Linked DNA regions of Homo sapiens. The protein of the gene in region 1 purifies or fractionates together with the protein of each later gene. This does not show direct contact. Each region holds a gene or a part of one and is shown on either strand. Other genes may lie near its edges. The genes, in order: PSMG4, PSMA2, POMP and MELK.

Region 1 (4,644 bases):
GTTATCTGCTCAGCCCTGCGGGGAGTGAGGAAGCCTCTTAGGCTTCCCCCACCATTAGGGACCAACCTCATCCTTTCCTAGCTGTGTTAGGCAGGCTGGGACCACTCATGTAGAGGGTGATCTAAAGGCAGGCAGTGTGGTAGGAAGCTGGGGCTCACCAAGGCTGCCTAGGAGGAGCCTGTAAGTCACACCCTGCCCTATATCCCAGGGGCAGGAACATCCCCCTTTACCCTAAGGGGGCCCCCCTGGTATTCCAACTGTTCTAACTGCAGAGACAGGATTTCTGAGGAACAACGCTGTGTCTGGAGGCACTGAGCCCCTCAGACCCAAGCTGTGCCCCTCCAGGGCCATAGGAGGTTGGGTCCCCTTGGCCACACCAACTCCTGCGATGCTTCCAGAGCTACTGAGAACCCCCCAGGCCTTCTCTTTCCCTACCTGCTTTCATCTCTCATATAAGATACTGATTCAGGACACCTCTCCCTTTTCATTATAGTGCATTTTCAACTTGAGGGCCCAGACCCAGGCTCAAGGCAACTGGCAAAGCATGGGACTTTGCTGGAAAACCTTCTTGGTCCGAGCTCTGCAGCACCATTCCCTTAAGAGACGCCGGAAGCCACGGCACACCCGTGACTTGTTGAGACAGTCGAGATACTGAGAACCCCTCTTTTTTGCATATAGATACTAGGCCTCCATCTCGCAAATATTCTGGAGACTAATTTACCTTATTGATATGAAAGTTATTCACGGCCTGCCAGACAAGCTCACACCACCTTCTCTATGGGAGTGTGTCCGCAACCCCACCCAGCTTTCCGTCTGTATAAATATGAATACCTTCCTGAGCCTTCTCCCACACGCAGTAACCTGTTCCATGTAAGTGTGCTACCCCTTACACAGTCACACACACAGAGTGACACAGACACAAAAGGCAGCTTTACTTTCATGTGGCTCAGAAAAAAAAAGATACAAACACAAAGAGGGAAGGGTGGCAAGTGGGAAATTGGGGCAAAAGCTAAGCAGGAATTCTATCTTCTTTGCAACTTTTCTGTAAATTTTAAATTTACTTCCTAGTTAAAAATTACCAAATTAACTTACAAGTCAGGTCCCCACCTCCAAGGGAGGGAAAAAGAATACTGCGAGTTCCTGAAATGCTGACCTGTGCCCTCCCTGACCTCTGTCCTATCCACATACTGTCATGGGCCTGCTGGTGACACTCCACCCTGCCCTGCCTTCCCCCTGGGCCAGGTGCCATGCTATTCGTGTGCATTTGCCTCAGTGTGACTGACACAGAGGTTCCTGCTTGTCAGGTACCAGGTCCTGTGCCTGAGACACAGAGAAGACTCCAGAGCAGAAGCAGCTGGGCCTACTGGAGAACGCCAGGCCTGGGCAGGAGACAGGCATCCTGTGCACACTGGCCACAGGCACTGGGGCTGGGGGTCGCAGAGCACATGGAAGCCTTACCTGGCCCACAGGAAGTGTGTTGGGGTGTGGGAAGAGTGGAGCATTCAGCCTCATGACCTTTGCTTAATCCCCACTCTACGCCACACTCACAGGCCAGGCCAGTCTTCCCTCCGAGCCCTGAACGGTATCACACTGAGTGAGGACAGTCCTTCCTGCACAGAGGTGACACCTGCTCCACCAGCTGCACTGACTCCTCCTAAGGCCCGGGAGGCTACCTTGAGCCACCACCCACAGGGGCTGTGGGCACTTCTCATGCTCTCCTCCCAGGAGGTGGTGATGCACTTACGGAAGGCAACTAAATCAGCTCATGGACTCAAGGACACACCCAAGGACGAGGTGGGAGTCCTTTGGGAACAGGCCAGCCCTGGGACGGTGGTGATGACAGGCGAGCATGGAATGTGCCCCTTAAATAAGACCCAACGTGCAAAGGTCTGTGCTTCCCAGCAGCAATGAGGTGATGGTTCTTAGCATAAAGATGCTTTACTTCCGAAGGGACTTGCTTCATGGTTCCATTAAAGAGTGGGCCCCACCTGGCTGGCCATGCAGCGCCAGCTGTGGGTACATACCTAGGCGCTGGGCAAGGCCAGTAGAGGTCGTGTCGGAAGTGTCTCCAAGGAGGGAGGTAGACACGGGGATGGAGTCCTAAAAGAAAAGCAAAGGGCACACTGCAGCTTCTCCACCCCCCGCAGGCCAGCCACACTTCTGGCTTCCGGGCTTCTGATTCTTCACGACGATGGCAGTGGCAGGTTCAGAGAGGACAGGCACAGGTGCCGAGGGAAAGAGGGGTGGCGTCCGTCAACAACCAAGTAGGTGGACCCCATGTCGCATATGAGGTCAGCGGAGTTGGGAAAGATGAAGCTGGAACCACAGTGCTACTAAGTTCTAGGACCAGTTTCACACGAAAGGCTCGTTTTAGTGTCTCAAACTCCAAAGCATGCTGAAGGGCAACACCACAACCAAAAGGGAAGCAAACAAGATCATTAAGGCTACAGCAAGAAGAAAGTGACTCACAGTCGGGGCACCTGTGCACTGGTGCCTCGTGCCCCACAGCAGCTGGCTCAGAGGCAGGATGCCTAATCTCCTCATCTCAGCCTGTGAGGGAGCATGCTGCTCCAGCCCCTGTGGGCTCCTCAGGGTCAGCGAGTGCCTTGTGACTTTGATACAAAGGGCACCAGCCACCAGCATCTAAATAGGGAAAATAACTTCTGAACATGCTTGGCCAACCTCATTTCAGACAAGAAGCAGTAAGGTGAAACAAGCAGTACAAATGATTCTCAGATCAACAAATGGGCCCTCCGGCGATGTGGGAGTAACTGCTCCCAACTACTTTGGGAGTAATCTCTCACCATTAACAATGTCTAGCTAGTCCCAGAATCCCAGCACTTTGGGAGCCTGTGGAGGGAGGACTGCTTGAGACCAGGAGTTTGAGACCAGCCTGGACAATGAAGTAAGATCTGTCTCTACATTTTTATTAAAAATAATAATAAAAAAATAAAGTAAGAAGGTCTAGCTTCCAAAGGGGGAAAAAAAAAACACTTATTGGTAATATGGCCAAAATTGCTTTTATCAAAATAGCAGATTTCTAGGAGAAGCAGCCTGGCTACAGAGGTCTGAGAATCTTGGAAAGTGGCAAGGTTTTTAGAGGTACAGAGACTTTGGGGTTTGGTTCCCCTGCCACCCCAACTGTCCTGGTGGGGACAAGTTAACTGAACAAACAGCTACTGTGTGCCAGACAGTATGGCAGGGCAGAGACCACAGGCGCTGCTCATCTCCTAAAGGTTCAAAGCCACTTCCACAAAAGACAATAAAAGGCAGGAGATCAAAAAACACAGGAGAAGAATGAAAGCATTTACTGTATGCTTCTTCACTAAAAACGATACAAAAATATCTTAATGAGCCTGCTGTTTACAGATTCCTCAAGTTCAACATTTAGCTGCATGGTAATAGTATGTACAGTTAAACCTTCTAGAAAAAAGAAAATCTACCTTACCCAGGGTGGCCTTTTTCTACCAAAAGTTAAATGTAAAGCCCCATCGTGTCACCCTTAATAGTTCATTACTTCCGACATCACACTAGGACTGTGGTCTCCCAGCAGATGCCCAGGGAGTTCTGCTGCAGCTGAAGCACCACCTTCCACTCCTAGAGGCCGGGCGGGGGGTCCAAGAATCCCTGAGCAGGCACGGGCCCAGGTCCCAGGCCAGCTTCCCTCAAGCTGGTAGGACTCAGTGTCACTAGTCCTGCAGCCTCTCTGGGCACCAAAAATCCCTGCTCAACCCAAGGTCAGCCAGCTCCGGGTTGCATGGTGTCTGTTCTCTACAGTCTCACATGTGGGAGTTTAGGGAAGCTGGAGGGAAGAGACCTCACAGACCGTCTGGTGCCATTCTCCACGTGTGGGCTGGCAAAATTCCTGAGAGGGACCAGATAGTAACTAGTTCAGGCTTTATGGATTACAAAGTCTCTATTACAACTGCTCAGCCCTGCCACCAAGGTACAAGAGCTCCACAGAGTCTACCTGCATGGACGGTAGATGGAGGGCTGGCCCACGGGTCACAGGTGGACAGTAGATGGAGGGCCGCCCCACGGGTCACAGGAACCTTGGGCTTCCTGCCTTAAGCTAATGCCTACACCTCTTTTCCCCAGCTGGCTCGGCTCTCTGCCCCTGGAGAGAACACCCAGGCACACTGCGGCCAGTGAGAGGGACTGGACTTCTGACAAGTCAGGTAACTCAATCAATCCCCTGTTCCTTTTCCTGCCTGGCTTTGCTGGAGGGGCACTTTCCAGATGAGAAAATATACCTCACTGGGAGCTGTGACCACCATGGGGTCGGGTGACCAAAACCACCCACAGGAGGAGCCTACTTCTTCCAAACTTACCAGCCCAAACCAGCACTGCACAAAGTGGCACAAGGCAGCGACACCAGATCTGACCAGTGCCCAAAGCCCTGCCCACTATGCCTTGGGATAAAGAGAGAATGCGAGGTGGCACAGAGCACACAGCCCCACCCATCACCCCTGGTCCCCCAGGCCTCTTCCGCTGCCGCCTGCTCAAAGGTCCACTGCCAGGACCCTCCAGGAAAGAAAAAAAGAAAAAAGGAAAAGGAAAAGAAAAGCAAGAAAGGAATCCAGATGCCATCTCCTTCCCAAGGCCTTCCCAGGTGCCGCTGTGCACAGCTAAGAGGCTCACCCA
Region 2 (4,843 bases), on another chromosome or scaffold:
CGACAGAGTGAGACTCTGACTCAAAAAAAAAAAAAAAAAAAAAAAAAAGAAAAATTTAAAGTTGCAATGATTGTCTGTCCATAAAGTGTTTTAATCACTGGCAAAAGAACTTTGTATATCTAGAAGCTGCTTTCTGCTGTTACATAAGCAACAAGAAAACACATTTTTTTCCTTAAATAAATACTCCAGAGCCAGATAAGATCAGAAATATTCATCATAGTGATTCTGTCCACTTGTTAAGCAAATACAGAAATGGTAAGTCCCACTCTATTTATATACCTACTCTTTAAAATAACTTCCCCCTACAATTCATGGCACATTTCAAGTAAAAAAAGCAACTTACCCTGACTGAGTATATTCTTGCATCACAGAAGCTACTCTCTGTACCAGCTGAGCTGTAGGAATGGGTTCTTGGTACACAAGATAGTATTGTTGAGCTAGTTTTCGAGCTCTGTGCACAAGCACTCTAACAAGGAAAAAATAAGATTTAATTACACAGAACATGCTCTACTACCTGAAGACTCATTCTCCTTTTACAGGCATGTACCTGCAGCACAAGTTTAACATGTATCTCTTTAATGGTGGCTATTGGATCAAAGCTAGTCTTACTCTAACACTGGATTCCAGTTGATATAGAAGAAAATATCAGAGCATCAGAGTACCAGTTAGCTTAAAAGTAACAGATTTAATGTACAAAAATGAGAACTTTATCTTGCTCCACGGCTTCTTCAAGACTGTACCCCCATCCAAGGGCAGCCGCTTGTCTTTTTACAGCTCACCCCAGCCCACACACACAAGCACACATAAACACACAGGCACACAATTCTGGGCATATTTTTCTCACTTCAGGTCACTACTTTCTGCAGACTGTTTCAATCTCTCTGCCTGTGCTTCACGGAGTACCCTTCAGAGATTAAGAAACAGTAAGAAACTACTTGTAACTAAAAATGTAAAATTCGGCTAGGTGCAGTGTTTCACGCCTGTAATCCCAACACTTTAAAAGGCTGAGGCAGGAAGATCACTTGAGGCCAGGAGTTTCAGACCTGCCTGGGCAAGACCCTGGGTTACTTTAAAGAGAATAACTCAGATGTGAAAGAGGAGGGAGATAGAGTACATAACTCCTCTTTTCTCTGTTTAATGGACTTTCCTTTCTGACATATTCCTCTTCTACTATACAGGAACTGGGCATAAGGCTTTAGTTTTCTCCAGTGCAGTTTAAAATGATAAAAGCAATACCCAGCATGACCCTGTCTCTTAAAATTTTTTTTCAGAAGTAAAATTTGTCAAAAGAGATTAAGAAGATATTATATAACAATCAAATATATTAGCAAGACAAATAGGATTTATCTTTGCCAGCTCATATACTACTGATCTGAAATATGCACATTTTCCCTCTGTGTGACAGTCATGTCCCATCCCTCAGTTTATCCTATCAGTGGCAGCACAATGCAGTATCCAGCCTATATAGTGGTGACAAGATTCACTGCCTGATCACATTCCACTGACCTTGTTGCGTTGATTCACTGAAGTGAAACTTTGCCTCTACCTATCTTGCTCCACAAAATCATGAGCAATAAAGTAATACTCCTTTTACTTGTTTAAATGACAGACACAGAAAGCTGTCAATCTCTTTCAACTTGCTGGTACCCTGAGTAACAAGATTATTCTCTCTTCCTGTGAAATATAAAGGGGGTGATTACACAAGCATTGGGATCCTGGTTGGCTGCCACACTCAACAACTTGCAGTGGTGTTTGAGAATTTTGTTCCTTTGTGAAGAACAGGAAAAAAGATAACTCTGGATAGTGATACTTTCTTTTGTTGCCTCATACTTTTTAAAATATAGTTTATTATAACTTAAATTGCTTTTATCATTTTTAAACTGCACTGGCGAAAACTAAAGCCCTTACGCCCAGTTCCTGGATAGTAGAAGAGGAATATGTCAGAAGAGAAAGTCCGCTGAACAGAGAAAAGAGGAGTTATGTAATCTATCTACCTCCTCTTTCACATCTGAGTTATTCTCTTTAAAGTAACCTATACAGGCAAACTAAATTCAGCTCTCAACGAGGCTGCTATTGCTAAACAAAGCACACAAAAAAAGAGGAACTGGAAGATTAAAGGAAAACAACCTTGGTTTTTCTCCTGAAAATACAGATTACAATCAATTCATGAGATGGTGAGAAACACTATAAAAAGTATAAAGTACCTGTAATCGGGGCCCATGCCACTGTACACCAAACCTATATGCTTGGTAATTGGTTCTACTTTGTGTACACTTCGCTCATCATACAGAATGGATTTCTGTTTTTTCTCAGTTGCTAATACCACACCATTTGCAGCTTAAAAAAAAAGAGAGAGACATAAATGTTTAATCATTTTTAAGACTGTTTTAACAGCTTTCTAATTATGGATGCGCTAAACGCAAACTCCTTTATTTCCTTTAATTTATAAAACCTTTTCTTCCGGAGTCCTATTACCAAAATTACCTAAGAAATGGTAAGTCAGTTTTTCCCTCACTGGTCATTTAGTACTACACAAAAAAATCCTCCCTACAGCTAAAGGTATTACATAAACTTTTGTAAAGCACTCTAAGGATACCTGAGAGTTCACATGTTTTAAAATAAGGGATTTCTGTCTACTTGTCCCAATATTCTTATAACATGAAATTTACAATAAATGATACAGGCTTTTAAAGTGAAACACAACACATTTAGCTTATGTTTTATAATTAAGCTTTCCTAAATTATAAGGATAAAAACTGCCAGGAAGTAGTGATATAATCAGTGGAAAAACAAAAAAAGAACTCAGTTTTCTGAATGAGAAAGACTATTGTGAATATCACAACTAACAGATAAAGGTGTTACTATTTACTTTGAAAAGAAATTTGAATGACCTTAGACTTATTACTATTTAAACTCCAAAACACTGTAAATTAACAAAAAATTGTTAAAAATTATACTGCTGCAGCTCTGTATAAATTAATTACTAATGAATTCCAAAATAATTAGGATAACTACTAACAGGCATCTGAAATGAATGAAGCATTTCATTACCTTTAATTCCCACGGACGGGGCTCCTCCAGCTACAGCAGCCAAAGCATATTCAATCTGGACAAGTTTACCAGACGGGCTTAAAAGAAACACAGGTATTTGTAAGTTCACATATCATCAAATATTTATTGTAAGAACATCTCTGAGATAGTACAGACATACAGGTCAAATCCAATTTATCCAACTCCAGGGAGTAACTGGCCTTTGACCTCTATCATGAAGTGGCACAGAAACCAAGTTTACAGCTGGGCGCAATGACTCAAGTTTGTAATCCCAGCACTTTGGAAGGCCAAGACGGGTGGATCACCTGAGGTCAGGAGTTCGAGACCAGCCTGACTAACATGGTGAAACCCTGTCTCTACTAAATATACAAAAATTAGCCGGGTATGGTGGTGCATGCCTGTAATCCCAGCTACTTGGGAGGCTGAGGCAGGAGAATTGCTTGAATCCGGGAGGTGGAGGTTGCAGTAAGCCAAGATTGCACCATTGCACTCTAGCCTGGGCAACAAGGCCGAAACCTCGTCTCAAAAAAAAAAAGAGAAAGACAGAAAGAAAGAAACCAAGTTTACAAGGCAATTGGAACATACTCCTACTGAAGCACTACTTTCTCTTTGGTTGTTTTTTGTCTGCCACATGGAGCAGTGGTATTACTGTTGCTTCTTTTCACCCTAAGTTTTCTATGCCTGTTTTCTCACCTGTAAAATGAGGACACAGTAACCACAACTGGTTTTCCGTATCAGTGGATTCCACAGGGCTGACTACAGGACTTGAATACGCCCTCACTTGGTATTTGTGGGGGTACTGAAATCACCGTCCCCTACAAGTGTCCTGTACCTATTTCAAAGCATTGTTGTGATTAAGTGAAGTAATTCCTATAAAACTGTCTGGCATAAAATCAGTAACAAGCACATACTGAATAGTAATGTTATTAAGAACATGTATGTGTCTGTTAAAAACCAAACAGCAGCACATATTTCAGGTCGGAGGGTGGTTTTAGAAAACAGACATGGCCTAAGACAATAAGACCTAGATATCACTCACAATTAAGTATTCTCTATATAATATACAACTATTTCTAGAAGTCATGAGATGGTCACACTTAACAGATCTGGTTCCATGGATTTGGTAGCTAAACGCAAGTCTCAAACTGGCCTTTTAAAGTTATCCTTTATTTCAACCTAGTTGTTTAAATGGAATCATCATAAACCAACCTAATTTCATAGATAAAGTCTGAGTGAAAGTAATTTGTCCAAAGTGACACAGCTAGGTCCTTATCTCCCGTCTACTAATGAAAATATAAATTTCAGAAGGCCGTATTTTCTCTTCATATAATTACGAATATTCCCTTGGTCACTCAAATCTCAACTCCATCCCTCCTTGCTCCAAACACATAGACTACTCTCAGACTTCAAACGCCTCATTGACAAGCTAATCCCTCCATCTGAAATGCATTTCTCTATTGCCCTGTGAACTCCTTTCATTCAATCATGTCCTAAGGGAAGTTGCCCTGAACCCTCAAGATTAAGTTGAATACCTATTCACTGATGCCTGTGATGTCCTGCACTTCCTCTTTGTCTAAGATTCATCATATCTGAATTGTTATTTTTTTTTTTTAGTAACAGGGTCTTGCTATGCTGCCCAGGCTGGTCTCAAACACCTCGTCTCAAGCAATCCTCCTGCCTCGGTCTCTTTATTATTTTTACAATATTTGTCTTCCTCAATAAAGTAGCTATGTTCAGTCAGGATTCCAGCACATAACCTAATACCAGGAATCCACAATCATTTGGCTGACAG
Region 3 (4,843 bases), on another chromosome or scaffold:
AACATGGTAAAACCCCGTCTCTACTAAAAATACAAAAATTAGCCGGGTGTGGTGATGGGTGCCTGTAATCCCAGCTACTTGGGAGGCTGAGGCAGGAGAATTGCTTGAACTCAGGAGGCGGAAGTTGCAGTGAGCTGAGATTGCGCCACTGCACTCCAGCCCGGGTAACAGCACAAGACTCCATCTTGAAAAAAAAAAAAAAAAAGACAGATTCCTCTTTCCTATTTATCACCTGTAGAAGTACAAAAATTACTTTTTTGGGGAGCTACTTTTTAAAGAAAGATTTATTTTCCAGTTGTTTAAAATGCTAGTCAAAAAACCCCAAAATCAAACTAAACACACAAAAACAACACCAGTCACATCCCAACAATGTGAATTCTGAAATAATTATCATTGTTTAAGTCACCCTAGGAATATCAGACTGACATATTACACTTGAAGCTCAGGACATGAAGTGAATAACCACCATTACTAGACTGAAATGACTATGTACTCTTAGAATTTCATAAATAATTTTCACTTTTTTTCTTTTTATATTTTTAGTAGAGACAGGGTTTCACCATGTTGGCCAGGCTTGTCTCAAACACCTGACCTGAGGTGATCTGCCCACCCCGGCCTCCCAAAGTGCTGGGATTACACGTGAGCCACCGCACCCAGCCAATCTTCACTTTTAAAAACAGTTAAAGAACAGTTACTACCATTAAACTTTATCTTAATGCAATGAATAAAGTGAACCCAATCAGCTGTAAGTTCCATGAGGACAAGAATTTTGCCTATTCTTTTTGCAGCTGTTTGCCTTTTAAATTACAAGGGCTCCATAAAAAGGTGCTGAATGACACTTACCATTAAGAATATCCTCAAATCCAATAGTCTCATCATTACCCCTCAAAACATCCAGTGAAAGATTTGAGCTTGAAAGAAATGGAAGACGCTGAACCTTTGGGGAAAAGTATGAAGGGACAAGATTAGAAAAAACTCAGGGGAAAATGACAGAATATATAGTCTAATTTCATGTTCTTTATTCTTTGTTTGAAAATTCGCAAAACCAAATACAAGATCAATTTAACAAGTGGAAAAAAACACTAGTTCATATTTTAGACACAAACTAAGTTGTAAAGACACTGAAATTATACTTTTCATTAACAATAATCCTACCTGGTGTGCATGTATTTTGAGGCTTTGCTTCTGCTCAGGAAAACTACGGCATATACCATGTAATGAAATGCAAAATCCCAGAGCTTAACATCACGCCTCATTCCTGATACATGTAGGATGATCAAATTCCTGAAGAAAGTCCAACTCAATAGGTTGCTTAGGCTGGTCTCAAACTCCTGGGCTCTAGTGATCCTCCCACTAAAACTGGGATTACAGGTCCATGTCACCAAGCCCAGCTAATGCAGATAATTTTTGATATTCCCACAGACTACCAAAATAGGTGGTCTTTGACTAAATGATAGTAGTATTTTAAAGATAATCACACCGTTAGAATCTAAGAGGGCAGTTTCTCACATTCCCCCCACCCCCAACAAAATGTATCCAGACTAAATATATTATTTTCAATTACTAATGTTCCATAGAGATATTTAAAATCTTTATAGTGTGGAAAAATTTCTCTAGATTGTCAAACCTAAAAAAAAAAAGGAAGTGGGAGGAAGAGGAAGAAACAAAAATAGGAACCTGTAAATTAAACCAGACAGCAAGGGGTCTGGTAGTTAGATCAGAGTACAGTCCTAAGAATGCATCAAAAGCAGGGAGGAGCAGGCAGCTGTTATACATCTTGACAACCCAAAACTGCAAAAGTATAGAGATAAGAAAAAAAAAAAAAAGACAGAGAATTCTGGGCAAAGATATTTGGATCAAATAGTATTAAAAACTTAAATCCAGAATTTGAGCAATCTGTAGTTGAAATCTGAGTAAGAGGAAAATAAAAAGGGAAGCTAACAATTTTGTGCCAAACATGTGATTTCATTTAATCTTCAGAATAATCCTATGCTACTCTTACTGTTCTCCTTATTTCACATTAAATTAAAAAATCTAAGGTTCAGAAAGCTCTCCAGCTTACTCAAGTTCTTAAGACTAGTAGATGGCTAAGCCAAGATTCAACCCTAGGTTACTCAAAACCATGTTTTTTAAGAGCTTTATCTTTGGAAAACGAGTAGCTTCCAGAATGACTTAGCCAAATACAATTGATAGTATTAGTAGAATTTATCTTATTATTATTTTTTTTGGAGATGGAGTTTTGCTCTTGTCGCCCAGGCTGGAGTGCAATGGTGTGATTTTGGCTCACTGCAACCTCTGTCTCCTGGGTTCAGGCAATTCTCCTGCCTCAGCCTCCCGAGTAGCTGGGATTACAGGCACATGCCACCAGGCCTGGCTAATTTTTGTATTTTTAGTAGAGACGGGGTTTCACCATGTTGGCCAGGCTAGTCTCGAACTCCTGACCTCAGGTGATCCATCTGCCTCGGCCTCCCAAAGTGCTGGGATTACAGGCATGAGCCACCCAGCTCGGCCAATAGAAATTTATTGAAAAAGACAATTTAGCTAGGTCAGAGAAAGGAATCTGCACCAGTAGGAGAAATGTGTGCAAACGCCTAACAGTGAAAGAACTTAATGAATTAGGAAACTGCAAGTAGTTTAAGAGGATAAGAAGTGTGGTGGGAAGCAAGGAGCCAATTCATGGACAGAGCCACACTAAGTGTTGGGTTTTATTTTTATTTAGAGGGTAAAGTGAGGGGAATGACATAATCAAATCTGTGTTTTACAAAGATTATTCTGATTAGAGTCTTAACAAGGATTGGAGGGGCAGCAGGGATGAGTGTTGCAGTAATCCAGATGAAGTCTGACAGGGGCAAGGACCAGCATAGTAGCAATGGTGGGGAGAGCAAGTAATAAACTGAATGATTTGGGGGAGCAGGGGAAGAGGTTAGGATGGGTGCTAGGTGACATAACCAAGGCTAATTATCCAATTTCTGCCTTAGGCAGAAACCTATTCATATGGGATAAGGAGTATGTGGGGGATTATGGGATTATGAGTTATTCTGTACTTGTCCATGTAAAACTGGAGGTGCCTGTGGGACTTCCAATTGGGCTTTCCAATTGGAAAAGCCTATAGGTTTATAGCTCATGAGAATTGTAACTTGGGGGTCATCAACATATTTTATTTTTTGAGACGGAGTCTCATTCTGTCACCTAGGCTGGAGTGTAGTGGCACGATCTCGGCTCACTGCAACCTCCGACTCCCAGGCTCAAATGATCCTCCCACCTCAGCCTCCTGAGTAGCTGGGACTATAGGTGTGCACCACCACGGCTGGCACATTTGTTGTATTTTTTTTTGTAGAGATGGGGTTTTGCCATGTTGCCCAGGCTGGTCTTGAACACCTGAGCTTGAGTGATCCACCCACCTTGGCCTCCCAAAGTGCTGGGATTACAGGTGTGAGGCACCACGCCCAGTTGGAATCATCAACATATAATTGATAACTAAAGCAACAAGTAGGAAATAGGGTCAGGAAAGGACTAGAGATGGGGCACTAACAAAACTGGCATTTTAGGAAACAGGCAAAACAAATGGAACCTACACAGAGACACCTGAGAACAAGGATTCAGAAAGGAGGACATCAGGAAAGTGTGGTGTTCTAAAAGCCAAGGAGGTGGGATGATAGCTTGAGGCCAGGAGTTTAGGACCAGCCTAGGCAACATAGCAAGAGCCCGTTTCTACAAATCATAATTTTTAAAACTAGCCAGGCGAGGTAGCAAGTGACTGTAGTCCCTGCTACTCAGGAGAGTGAGGCAAGAGGATTGCTTGAGCCCAGGAGTTTGAGGATGCAGTGAGCTATGATCATACCACTGCACTCCAGCCTGGATGACAGAATGAGATCCTGTATCAAAAAAATAAATACAAAGTAAAAACATAAAAGCCAAGGGAAAAAGGAAGAAGCCATTATTAGTGTCAAATACTACAGGGAGATGAAGTAAAGTGAAGGTAAAAATGTCCACATTGTTCAGGAGCAGTTTCATTGGTGTCATGGGAGACAGAAACAGTGGGTTAAATAAATAGCAGGGAAAGGAGTATAGAAAGCAAATGTAGACAACTTTTCAAGAAGCAAAAGCACACTCAATGAGAGACAAGTTACTATAAAGGAATTTGAAATTGATACAATTTTTTTTTGTTTTAAAAGACAACAGCGGTTCAAATGCTACTGCTGAGACAGAGCAAGCAGAGAGGGGTTAAAGATATCAGCTTGAGAAGGCATCATTGATAAAGGGATTTTCCTGAAGTAATGTAACAGGATAGAATCCAAAGCACAGGTAGGAGGGTGGTTCTTACATAATTGGAAGGACATTTTCCAAGTACTTATTCCTTAGAAACAGGTATATTCAACTATATACAAATTGTATACTTGACACCTCCACTTGGATATTCTTAGAGGGATCTCAAATTCAATGTAATACATAAAAAAAAAACCCAGAAAAACATGAAAGCAGATGCAGGTAAGTTTTCAGACACTGAGCCTGTAATTTGAAGTTTTCCATTTAATGACTTCTTTTTTCCCTCTATGAAGTAGAAATCAAGGTCATACCCTAAAAAGGGGGAGGGAAGTAGAATAGGTTGTAAGGTAGATAAGGTATAAATAGCTGTTATGAAAACAGAAGATTCCTCATGAATGATATCGACACATATGCAACAGAGATCCATCAACTCACCTGCTGCACTGCCTTGAATTCCATCTGTAATTTTAGCGGAGCAAATAGACCCTGAATGTTTCTCAGTGTGGAAAAATTCATTTTATCTTGGTTGAGCTGGAACTACAAAAGACAATGTAATTTTAAACATTACACTCAATAC
Region 4 (4,843 bases), on another chromosome or scaffold:
ACAGTCAACTCTTAGTGAGTTAATGGCCCACTGGGAGAGCTTGGAGAAGTTATGGTTATTAGTAAACACACCCATAGCTTCCTTTTCATACTTTCATCTTCCTCTCCTACCAATCCTTTTAAAGAAATAAATATTAAAGAGCACCCATCTAACTGTTTGAGCTTTGCCTATTTTCCCCTTCCCACACTATTTTAAGAGACATTAACAGTCCTGAAATGTATACCACGGAAAGATAAACAAACACCATACAAAGTTTGCTTTGTACCTAGTTGGATATGTTTCCTTAACTCTTTCTGGATTATTTAAAGAATATTATAGAGTTCCAGGAGCTGATTTTATGACAGTTCTATGAGGAAATAAATGTAACAGGTATTCCTTTAAAAAAGTGATGTCATATTATTTTTTCTCATTGACTGAGAGCCTAATTCTCAGAGATAATTTCATTCCTAATTGATATTTATCCTTCATTCATTCAACAACTACTTTTGAATGTTTACTATGTGGTAGGCACTGTTTTAGTGGGTCCTGGACACACAAAAATCCCTCCCTTCCTGGTAAGTACCTTCACTGTCAAACAAAACCATAGTTTCTATATCTTTCAGGTTTGAGTTCATTGTATAAATAACAAAATGCCTAGGAAGAAAAGTATCCAACTATCTTACTTTTCAAAATAAGAACCTATGGCCCAAAGAAGAGATACAAATTTCTTAAGGTAGTGCTTCTCATAGTGTGATACAAGATAGACAAGGTAATTCTGGGTGGCACATGGATAAATATTTTTAAATATGTATTTGTTCCCAACTGATTTCGAAAACATAATTAACAACAACAACAAAAAAACCCTAATGATATAAAGGTTTCCTTTTAAATAAATTTGAGTTTTAAAAAATTATCTTGATTGTGGCAATGGTTTCACAGATGTTATATATAATGCCAAAGCATATTAATTGTACTTTAAAATATGCACAGTTGGCCGGGTGTAGTGGCTCATGACTGTAATCCCAGCACTTTGGGAAGCCAAGGCAGGAGGATTACTTGGGCTCAGGAGTTCAAGACCAGCCTGGGTAACATAGTGAGACCCTGTCTCTGCAAAAAAAATTAAGAATTAGCCAAGTGTGGTAGCACGCATCCCAGCTACTCAGGAAGCTGAGGCAGGAGGATGACTTGAGCCCAGAAGGTTGAGGCTGCAGTGAGCTATGATCATGCCATTGCACCACAGCCTGGGCAGCAGAGCAAGACTCTGCCTCAAAAAATTAACAACAAATAAAATAAAATAAAATATGTGCAAGTTTATTATATGTCAGTTATATCTCTATAAATCCATTTGTTAAAGGAGAGTCAACATAATGAAAATACCAGATAAATAATAGTGCACCCAATACACCCATAGAGCAAATGTCGTGAAACTGAGTGTTAACGAAGGGACCCTCTCTTTCTTGGTTCCTGATCCAGCACTCTTTTCACCAAACTAAATTGGCTCTGTTAAGATGATATTAATAATAAACTGAACACCTTCAAATCACAATATATTACTGCTTTGGTAAAATAAAGAATGAATCCTAATTTATCTACTTAAATTTTGGATTTTTTATAGACTGCTTCCTAAAAGAGGACATAACTACATATGATTTGCTATCTTAAAAAACTAAGGTATTATTTCTACTATCCTTGCAACTCTTCCGGTAAGTGTATAGTTTTTAGTACAGTATTTGAAGTAGGTGAAAAAAAATAAGGTTAATTTCCCAAAGAAAGTCCTTCAGTTTTGCAAAAACTTAAAAGCATTAAAAAGTGTTAATGATCTAAAGTTAAAGTTTTCAATCTTAGGACTGTGCTAATTAGGACCATGGGTCTATACATGGGTGGTAAAATGCTCAACACTGATAGTAATCCTTGACATTGGAAACATGTCACCTTATACTCATAAAGCATTTAATATGCCATGTAGCATCCCATATGTAGAGTCTTGTTTCTACATCTCAGCCGTGTGAGGTTGCCAGGGTAGGCATTATTTCCAGATTTTACAAATGAAGACACTGAGGAGATCAGGAATAAAATGATTTATCAAAGCTATACAGCACAAAGCTGGAGCCAGAACCCAGGTCTTCTCATTCCCAATCCTGTGGTTTTTCTCCTACATTCTGGAAGTACTGGAGAACTACCTAGAAAGCCAACTAACACCACAGTAGTTTCTATTGAAAAATGCATTCAGGTTCCAAAATATTTACATAACTGACCATTTTTAGAACATTATCCGTTAGTATTTGGTAACTGCTTAGCTTCTCAATAATGTGTATATATGTGGTTGAACTAGTTTCCTTAATTTTATTTAACATTTTTCAGTGCAATGGTACTATGGTTTTTTTAAATCTCAGTGTCGGTGCTTGAAATACTTAACTATCTCCAACCAGAGAAATTTCAGAACAAAAGGATAAAATATGCCTAATACACAGCCATATGTAACGTCTCAGCACACTACAAAAGTTCAAGGTAATGACTGCTAGTGGATAACTCCTATCTTCTTCCACTTTAAGACAGAACAGAAATGAGATCACAGAACATTCTCCTCTAAAACACCCTTCTGCCCAAAAGCTCAGCATTTTCCTTCCCTCAAACCGCCCAGATTTGCTCATTACGAGAGTCTCAGTGCAAAAACTAAACATAGACCCAGTCCCCAAATGATGGGCACACTACCATCTTCTCCCCTGCTTGGGCCCACACCTCTTGGAATGTGTTTTTACTATAGCACTGAGCCCAGTGTTTCAGAACAACATCCCAGCCTGTTTTCACAGCCAGCCTAAGAGTTCCTCAAGGAATGGGCTGTCTCATTCGTCCCTTTACCTCTTAATTACTCCCCTTCCACCAAACAAACATGTATTCATCAGATGTTTGAATGAATGCTCAGAGAGAATCCAAGAGAATAAAAAGTACTTTATATCAACTAACAGCTTATTTTTCCTTTCCTTCCTTGACTAAATATATTGTCCACACCAGTGACACATTAACCCTTTTAAAGCATACTGGGTCTATTAAATAAGATCCACACCTTCTTAGCCAGGCCTTGAGGCCCTTCCGGCCTACCTTCCCCGCTTGTCACTCACTATTTTCCTGACACACACCACACTCAAAGTTCCAATTATCTTCCCATGCATTCAAATATTTCATGAGGGCCTACAAAGTATCCATGAATCAGGGACACAACTGAGCTCAAGTCCCCCTCCTTAAGGCAGCTCTCAGCTCTCCATCTGTGCCCCCTGCTTCCTCACCTCCATGTTGCCCCTGTGACTAATCCCTCCACCTGTTCTTGAATATTTGAATGATAGCTGTTTGCTCCTTGAAGGGAGTGACTGTATCTATTTACTGACTGCACAGTAACATGCAGATTTTAGTTGCTCAAAAAACATATATTAACTAAGTGAATAAATACTCAAATAAAAAACACTAATCAATTCATTCAGCACCTTAAAAAAAAAAGGCAGTCCATTAGCAGTCAGCTTCTGCTCCATATGAAAGAATTCCAGCCTGCTTACCTTTAGTCTTCTGGGCCCGTCTCTGGCAGAACCCTTCCTTTTGCTCCTGGTGAGCACAGTGATAACCTTATCCAACCCCCTTTCAAGGCTCCCAAACACTTTGGCTCCCTTTCTTTTTGGAGTCTCCTCCATATGTGCTTGGTTGAGATCCAATTCCACTGAGCGGCACCTGAAACAAAACATAAAACAAGGCACAAGTAGAGCTGGGCCTCCGGCCTGTGGGGTCCACAAGGGTGAACTTTTGTCCCTTCATACACATTAGGATGCCTCACTCAGGTATGCCAGGGCCAGATCACCTCTCTCTTCCTCAGGAAGCACCAAAGCCATCTCCCCCTGGACAGGAGCTGTCACACTTCTACCAGGCAACTGCCACTCAGCAAAACTATTTATCCCCTTCCTTTTTAAAAAAGGATATATATATCCTTTTTTCATATATATAGAAAAGTTCAAAGAAGAGTACAATGAACACCGGTATATCCTCCTAGATTCAACAATTGTTCATATTTTGCCACATTTGCTTTCTATTTGGATATAGATAATATATTAATGTACATATGTATATAGATATACACTGATATATATACATCAATGTATATATCTATATATACACATAAATTTAATGTATGTAGATAATACATTAAATTTACTTATTTGCTAAGCCATCTGAAAGTAACTCATCTGAACATATCATGACACTTTACTCTGAAACACTTCAGTATACATCTCCAATGAATAAGGATGTTGTCTTCCATAAAGACAACACCATAAAGTGTGCTGAGAAGTTTACGTTACATATGGCTGTTTATTAGGCATATTTTATCCTTTTGTTCTGAAATTTTTCTGGTTGGAGATAGTTAAGTATTTCAAGCACTGACACTGAGATTTAAAAAAACCATAGTACCATTGCACTGAAAAATGTTAAATAAAATTAAGGAAACTAGTTCAACCACATATATACACATTATTGAGAAGCTAAGCAGTTACCAAATACTAACGGATAATGTTCTAAAAATGGTCAGTTATGTAAATATTTTGGAACCTGAATGCATTTTTCAATAGAAACTACTGTGGTGTTAGTTGGCTTTCTAGGTAGTTCTCCAGCACTTCCAGACTGTGGGAGAAAAACCATAAGATTAGGAATGAGAAGACCTGGGTTCTGGCTCCAGCTTTGTACTATATAGCTTTGATAAATCATTTTATTCCTGATCTCCTCAGTTTCTTCATCAATAAATTAATAATAATTCCATAATATCATCTAATACCCTGTCCACATTCTAATTCTCCAATTGTCTTGAAAATAGACAATGCCTTTAAGA

The links.
Region 2: the proteins of PSMG4 (region 1) and PSMA2 purify together in Homo sapiens (affinity purification with mass spectrometry; 2 studies listed by BioGRID and IntAct, with this or other methods). This does not show direct contact.
Region 3: the proteins of PSMG4 (region 1) and POMP purify together in Homo sapiens (affinity purification with mass spectrometry; 2 studies listed by BioGRID and IntAct, with this or other methods). This does not show direct contact.
Region 4: the proteins of PSMG4 (region 1) and MELK purify together in Homo sapiens (affinity purification with mass spectrometry; one large-scale study listed by BioGRID and IntAct). This does not show direct contact.

The regions. Positions count from the first base shown.
Region 1 is NC_000006.12:3,261,140-3,265,783, reverse strand, and holds part of PSMG4 (proteasome assembly chaperone 4), read right to left. Parts: intron 2,101-4,644; coding exon 2,025-2,100; coding exon of another isoform or gene 1,960-2,024; exon of another isoform or gene 1,611-1,959; coding exon of another isoform or gene 1,459-1,610; exon of another isoform or gene 1-1,458. UniProt on the Homo sapiens protein: Chaperone protein which promotes assembly of the 20S proteasome.
Region 2 is NC_000007.14:42,924,332-42,929,174, forward strand, and holds part of PSMA2 (proteasome subunit alpha type-2), read right to left. Parts: intron 3,129-4,843; coding exon 3,052-3,128; intron 2,338-3,051; coding exon 2,205-2,337; intron 467-2,204; coding exon 344-466; intron 1-343. UniProt on the Homo sapiens protein: Component of the 20S core proteasome complex involved in the proteolytic degradation of most intracellular proteins. This complex plays numerous essential roles within the cell by associating with different regulatory particles.
Region 3 is NC_000013.11:28,668,433-28,673,275, reverse strand, and holds part of POMP (proteasome maturation protein), read right to left. Parts: intron 4,804-4,843; coding exon 4,702-4,803; intron 938-4,701; coding exon 844-937; intron 1-843. UniProt on the Homo sapiens protein: Molecular chaperone essential for the assembly of standard proteasomes and immunoproteasomes. Degraded after completion of proteasome maturation. Mediates the association of 20S preproteasome with the endoplasmic reticulum.
Region 4 is NC_000009.12:36,669,851-36,674,693, reverse strand, and holds part of MELK (maternal embryonic leucine zipper kinase), read right to left. Parts: intron 3,697-4,843; coding exon 3,528-3,696; intron 1-3,527. UniProt on the Homo sapiens protein: Serine/threonine-protein kinase involved in various processes such as cell cycle regulation, self-renewal of stem cells, apoptosis and splicing regulation. Has a broad substrate specificity; phosphorylates BCL2L14, CDC25B, MAP3K5/ASK1 and ZNF622.